Linked DNA regions of Homo sapiens. The protein of the gene in region 1 interacts with the protein of each later gene in a biochemical or structural test. Each region holds a gene or a part of one and is shown on either strand. Other genes may lie near its edges.

Region 1 (3,622 bases):
ACTATTAAGTACAGGTAAAACCATCAGATTCTATAACCTATTTTAATAACTCTGAGATCTTATTAGTCATAACCTGATGAGGTACAAACTCCCGTTAAATTATGTGTATATTTTAAAAACTAAACTTAGCAAGAACTTTAAGGAGAATTAAATTTGTGAAAAACAAACTTTTATAATCTTATTACCATAATACTATTATTATTATTTCTCTATATATTTATTTTCCATCTTCATCCTTAAAACAATCCTCTGTCCTGGAGTTGTATTATTAATCTTTGTTTAATAAATATTGATATTTTAAAATTCAATTAATTTTTCCATTTTCTGAAAACTCTTCAAGTAGTGGACCCTCACAATATCTAGCAGTAGTATAACATTTAAATTGGCTTCAAAGTCCTTTTTTTATATTAAATTTTTATATTCTTTATATTAAAACTTGTGTATGATGTGGCCTCTTTGTTTCCACCTAATGCTTCATATGGCCAAAATATTAATCAAACAAAATAAGTTTTTGGCATTGGCATCAACTTAAAAATCTGGTTAAACAACACAAGCATATAAAGATTTGAAGAAAGCAAAACCATTAGTTACCTGAACCTTCCAATTCTTCTTAGATGTGAAAACATTTCACCCCCAGGGACATATTCCATAACCATGTATAAATTAGAATTATCCTATGAACAAATAAAAAGGAAATACAATTATTCAACTTAGGTCAAAATTATTTTAATATTATATAATGCTGAATTAGAAAAATTTAAAATCTCTCTGACAGATTAATAACCTTGAGAAATAAAGAATAAATGGAACATGCTCTAGCTTTTCTATACAGAGACACTCATATTTTTCCCCTCCTAGTTATTTTTGCCACAAACTAGTCTGGGACTTTTGCTCTTCCTTTTCTTGCAGAGAACATCTAGTTCTCAAACAATTAAATACTCAGGCAATGAAGTAACGTTATAATATATGCAAAAGAATAACAAAGGTAAAAAACAATTTAAAAAGTTAATAAGAATATTTACATTTTATGTATAAAAGATTAATGGTTTTAATATTTTAAATACATAGGTCTTCATTTAATTTAAAGAATAAAGGAGAAAAAAGATTAAAATGTTTCATATGATTCAATATTGCAGAGAGATGCCAGTATCATTCCAAAGAGCTCAAAAGTGACCAATTTAAATAATAAATGTGGTACAATTTTTCAGACATTTGAATAGTGGAACAAAAATTTTGCTTTGTATAAGTGAAAAGACTAGAACTCAAATTACTAAGTAAAAGAAGATGAGATAGTGGCAAAAAGGGCTTAATCAAAGTAGAAAATGTGTTGGGTGTATGAATTTGCATAAGAATTGTTATTAAGATATCCCTATGGTTTTTGATAAATTGAAATATTTCTTTTTGTAATACCATCTCATGAGTATCACCTTTGAACAATTTCCCCAGGGAGAATCAAAACCTTTTCAAACGTTACCTAAGTTATAAGCACAATAGGATTTAATTACACAAACTCTAGAGGTATTCGTTTTGTTTATTCATATTCTTCAGGCTTATCATCTGGTTTAGAATCCATTTATAGTTTCATCTTAAAAAAAATTTAGGTTGAAAATATCTTATTTAGATATTACTAAAATTTACCTTAAAAGCATACTCCAGTCGAACAAGGAAAGGAAAATTCACTGCCTGTAATATTCTTTTCTCATTCAAAGTATGCTCTATTTGCTTCAGTTTAACAACCTGTAATTGAGAGATAAATATCTCTTAATGTATTTAAGCAAAATTAAAAAGTTATCATTTAAAAAAATGTTTTCCATATAGTAATAAACTTGGATAAGCAAAATTGTTAGAATTGGATAAGGAAGATAATAACAATTACCAACTTTTAGGTTGGTGCATAAGTAATTGCGGTTTTTGCCATTACTTTTAATAATAGGATTCAAATGAAAACCTAATAGAGGATTTAAAACTTGGTCTTAGGAAGGTCAATTATGGTTTCAATTAAGAAGTGAGAGCTAAGTAGGAATAAGAAACAAACTCATAAGAAATTACTTTAAAAATTAGTTATGTCAATTATGCTTAAATAAATATATAATTACTTAAGGTAATTTAAAAATGAATGTGAAAATACTAAGGTCCTAATGACTTAAAGTCCTCTATAAAAGCTGGCTCAAATCTCTGCAATAAGTAGATAGTGATTTTAAATACTTCAGAAGATGAATAAGAAAATTAAAAATGAAGAGAAAGTCCATAACTGAAAAATAGTGAGTAAAAATGAACAATTTTCATTTTATAATATCTAAATAAATATAGGTATAAATTCTAAAAATTTATTTTATATTGCCATAGAAGAGGACACACAAAATATTGGGGAAAAAACTATCTTTATAACAAAAACTATCTTTGTATCCTAGGTCATTTAGACTTAAGCTTCCTCTAGATTTTCTATTTAATAGAAGGGGAAAGTAATTTATCTTGACTTCACGAAGACTGTGATTCTATTCCATATGTGATTCTATTTTGAATTTAAGAAGTGGTGACTTTAGCAAGACATATAAATAATTTTCTTGTATATGTGTAAATCATTAGAAGGTGGCATTCTTTCTTGCTGGAGTCTAATGGTCAATGTGAGGATAGTCACAGAAGTCAAGAAGTTAAATATAAATAACAAAAGTAATTAAAGATACCAGCCAGGTATTAATATATAAAATTAGGAGTATACTGATAATATTGAGCAAATAAATTGAGTAGGAGTCAGATTTGTGTTTTAATCTAGGCCTTTTATTTAACTAACTTTCTGACTTGAGATGATTTCAAATCTTTGGGCCTCAGGTTTTCAAAATTTGTAACATGAAGTGGTTGGATCACTACTGTACACATTTTAACTTCTGTAATAGTTACAAAACAAATTAGTCCATAATTGTCACAATAAATTATAGTTGTCCATCAGTATCCCTGGGGGTTGGTTCCAGGACCTACAGCAGAAACCAAAATGCCCAGGTGCTCAAGTCCCTTATATAAAATGACAGAGGCTTTGCATAAAGCCTATACACACTGTCCATATACTTTAAATCATCTCTAGATTACTTATAATACCTGATATATTGTAAATGCTATGTAAATAGTTGTTACACTGTATTGTTTAGGGAATAATAACAAGAAACAAAAGTCTGTACATGTTAGGTATAGATGTAATTTTTTTCCCAAATATCTTCAATCTGTGATTGGTTAAATCCATGGACGTGGAACCCATAGATATGGAAGGGCTGACTGTATACTAACTATGTATAATATAGTTACAATAAAAATTTAGTTACAATAAAAATTAAATTTAATAATAAAATTATTTGAAGCTGTCAATGGTAAGTCATTATACTGAATCTGTTTAATAGTCTAGCTGATAAAACTAAAGTTTACCCTGAAGGTAAATAACAACAAATACACTCACCTTCTGCTTATCTAAGATCTTCATGGCATAATACTGTTCAGTGGCTTTGTGTTTTACCAACATGACTCTTCCAAATGAACCTGTTCCAAGGGTTTTTTTCCTTTCAAAATCTTCAAGTCCGGCATTATTCTATATGTAAATACATAAATAAAATTTAAAATTCTCGTAAAAACACTA
Region 2 (3,622 bases), about 150 Mb from region 1:
AGCATTCTCTGACCATTGCTTGAGTTTCCCAATCAGTTCCATACATTTTATTAATTATTAGTGATAAATGGTCGGAGAAAGGTAAAATCGGAATTGGTTAGAGTGATCCAAGAAAACTCTGTGTAGGATGAAAAGCATAAGCAAGGTATCAAGGGGCAGATCATAAAAGGCCAAGTAGAGAAATTAGACAGGATATGCAAGGATGTGAGCTGAGGCTGGGAGATGGACACGAGGGTTTCAGGAGGACTAAAATGGCAGGCGGATTCTAGGTGGGTTGCCGATTTGTTGCAGGAGGAAGGATGACGAAGGTTGAAATGAGTACTGGGATCAGAACAAGAAGCTAACGGAGTATGAAACACATCGAAATCTGAGTTGGATTGCAAAGAGAAACACGATGGGCTATGATGACAAATTAGATGCAGAAGAGAAGAAAGAGAACTAGACAAATGCATTGAGCCACTCCCATGAGCCAGGCACTGTTGTTCTAAGTCCGTAAAGCTAGGTGCTGGTGGATTCCGGCCTCAGACTCAGGTCTTCTGAAGGTTAGGATCACACTGGAGCCACAGCCACAAACGGCAGTGCCACTGATCAGCAGAGACACTAGGAAGGAAAGTCGCTTAGGGAACCGAACAGGCAATGATGTCAAGCTGGTGTTTCTGGGGTCCGAGAGGCAAGAGGGAAGTCTAAACAGAGGCTTGAAGTGAAGGCCCAGGGCTGTCGAATCTACGGTGGGTTTCTCCTACAAAAAAGAGTCGCTTTGGGAACATTCCTTTCATCTCTCTGGCTCTCAGAGCTGGATGAAGTCATTGTTAAGTCTTTTCAGACTCTGTTATTCAAGAGATCCCAGATTTTGTGACATAGATAAGCTCATGAAGGCAGAAGAGCCAGAACAGGAAATAGGACAGAATCTTTTGGGATAACCACACACTTGGAGTAAAAGGAATGAAAAGCACCTGGAAAAAGCATGATCAGAAATGTAAAAAATTACCCAGAAGGTACCATGTCCCCAAAGTCAAAAGAGTAGCTTCAAAAAGGAAAGTCAGGGTAGTAGAGCTTGAGAAGGAATCTAAGGGAATAGGGACAGAGAGGGACATTTAGACGTGGCAAGGAGGGAGTTACTGGCAACATCCTGGAAAGTAAATTGAAGAAGGAAGAGAAGCTAGATAATTACATGGAGAGGGGTACAAGCAGTGGGAGAAGACCACTTCTGCAGGAGGGGAGCAACCAAATAAGGTATCCGGGTCAAAGACAGACATTTTAAGATGGGAGAAATTAACAGGCTTCAAGATAAACCAGAAGGAGTAAGTGGATAGGGAGGCAAAAAAAAAAAAAAAAAGGCTAGAAAGGATGGATTCCAATCTTGGCTTCCAGGACCAAGATTCAGGCCATGTGAGGGACTGTAACATTAGAAAAGACAAAAGAAACCTCCTTTTCACTGGCTGGAAGGACAAGAGGACAGATTTGGAGACAGAACTCTATGAAGGTCAAGTTAAGGATAAAATGGAAAAGTGGGTTTAAATCTACTCTATAAAGAATGATGTGCTGGTAAACCTCCTTTCTGGAAATTCTTCACAGATTTTCATATACTCTCCATTACTAAATGCCACTAACTTGGAGTGTGACACTGGGCCAAGTCATTTGGCTTTCTGAGCTTTTGTTTCCTTATCTGCAATATCAGAGAGGCATGGGGTGGACAGGGTAATGTTTTCTAAAGGCCTCTTCCTACCCTAATGTTTTGGAGTTTGTTTATGCATTTTTCCTTCTGATTGCTCCATGCCATCCTCTATATCTATTCTTTGCAATTACAGCTGCAAACCACTTCCCTACTTATTTGGAATACTTCCTTAACATGCTATGCATACAGACGGTGTTCAACAAATGTTTTCTGAATTAATCTAATTCCCACAATGTCAGAGTTTCAGGAAAAATGTGTGCTTCATCACCTCTCCCTCTCTCCCGAAAGCTATCTAAAGAAGCACAGTCACCCAGTGCTGCTGGAGTCCTTTCTTGGGTAATTCAGCCGTGATAAAAACACTTATCTGAAGCCAAAGTACAAATACAATTGAATGTCAAATAAATTAGTGCCCTAAGCGTTTTAGATCTTGCCCTTCCTGCCAATGTGTACATGCTAATTTCTAAGTTAAAATAAAATAAGTCTGATGATGTAAGCCTGGGTGGGCTTTCCATCAGTTCCTTGGGAAAATACCATAGTGCATATCTATCTAAAGCTCCTCGTAGCTTCATTATGAAGGGAGCAAAAAGTGCGAATTTCCACTGCTCATTCCATCTTTTCCTTTGTACTCTGTGACATTCCTACAGCTGAGAAAACTGACTTGGTATTCTTTTGCTATAAACCTAAAACATACTTGAACAGCAGATAAAGAAGCCTTTCTCTCCTGGAAAGAACACTATTAGCCTAAGATTTGAATTTTAGTCCTCGTTCTGCACTGCTGAGTACTGACTTCATACCATTAACCTTCCTGGACCTCTACAAACTAGGGCTAAGTATTCCCATCCAAACTACTATGCAGTGTTGTACACCAGCATCTATACTGCATAATTGTCACCATTTGTAGATGAGTATATTTAAAGATGCTTCTTGTCATTGTGGAACAAGATGTATGAACACTGAGAAGAAATCTATAATGAAATACTTCATTCTGCAAAAGAAGACAGGAGGAAGACCGTAAGCATTCCTATCAGGATCATTCTTACAGCCAGGACTAAGCTTTAAGTCTCAATCTATGGGTAAATACAAAACTACATGACACAGTACACCACAAGGGTAACTCAACTGTGCTTAGACAAATGAAAGAAAGACAAAGTACTCAAAAAAAAAAAAAAAAAAAAAAAAAACCTTGACCAAGGTCATTTTATACCATGGTTTTCCTAAAGTCAGAGGAATATCTTCTATAACATTCTGTATGATTGTTGGAAAAAAAAAAAAAAAGAGGACCATAACGAAAAAGATGCGTGTTTTTAAATGCCAAATGACAGTTTGATGCTACATTGGTAAGTTAATAAAATCTTTAAAATAAAACACACATTCCAAATCATGGATATGTTTGGATATGACAGTGAATGAATCCATTACAAGCTGACAGCTTATTTTATGATAGGATTTTTCTCTCATAAAATAAGTGTCCCAGCATATCCAGAGTTTACAAAAACATATTTTCAATCTCTCTCAAAGATAAACAGACCCAAGTGGGCAGGTTTCCAACAGATGGGGGAGCCACTGAATCAATGATCATTCATCTACATAACTATTTGGAAGGAATGTGAGCCAACTCGACAAGCAGCAGCAAATGGAACAGAGATGCCAGAGAGACAGGTACAAGCTAAACAGTGACAAACCCCTTTGCAAATGAGGAATTAATTTACAGCAGCATACATAACTCACAGATACAGCCCATTAAAGATTTCACCTCTACTTCCCTTAACAGTGATCTCACACCTCTTCTAAAAAAAGAAAAGCAAAAAAGCTTTCTGTGGACAGTGGTCAAAAAGATGCCTCAATGTGCTGGGGTGCTGAATACAAATCCAATAGACAATGACCTGCTCAAGATAATAATCCAGATGTTCTAATCAGGACATATGAAATGTCCCATCAAATTCACAA

The links. Proteins that work in one complex are often made in the same cells at the same time.
Region 2: of the proteins of PRKACB (region 1) and RYR2, one has a biochemical effect on the other in vitro, tested with the Homo sapiens proteins (one study listed by BioGRID).

The regions. Positions count from the first base shown.
Region 1 is NC_000001.11:84,182,152-84,185,773, reverse strand, and holds part of PRKACB (cAMP-dependent protein kinase catalytic subunit beta), read right to left. Parts: intron 3,575-3,622; coding exon 3,446-3,574; intron 1,738-3,445; coding exon 1,639-1,737; intron 675-1,638; coding exon 592-674; intron 1-591. UniProt on the Homo sapiens protein: Mediates cAMP-dependent signaling triggered by receptor binding to GPCRs.
Region 2 is NC_000001.11:237,045,104-237,048,725, reverse strand, and holds part of RYR2 (ryanodine receptor 2), read right to left. Parts: intron 1-3,622. UniProt on the Homo sapiens protein: Cytosolic calcium-activated calcium channel that mediates the release of Ca(2+) from the sarcoplasmic reticulum into the cytosol and thereby plays a key role in triggering cardiac muscle contraction. Aberrant channel activation can lead to cardiac arrhythmia.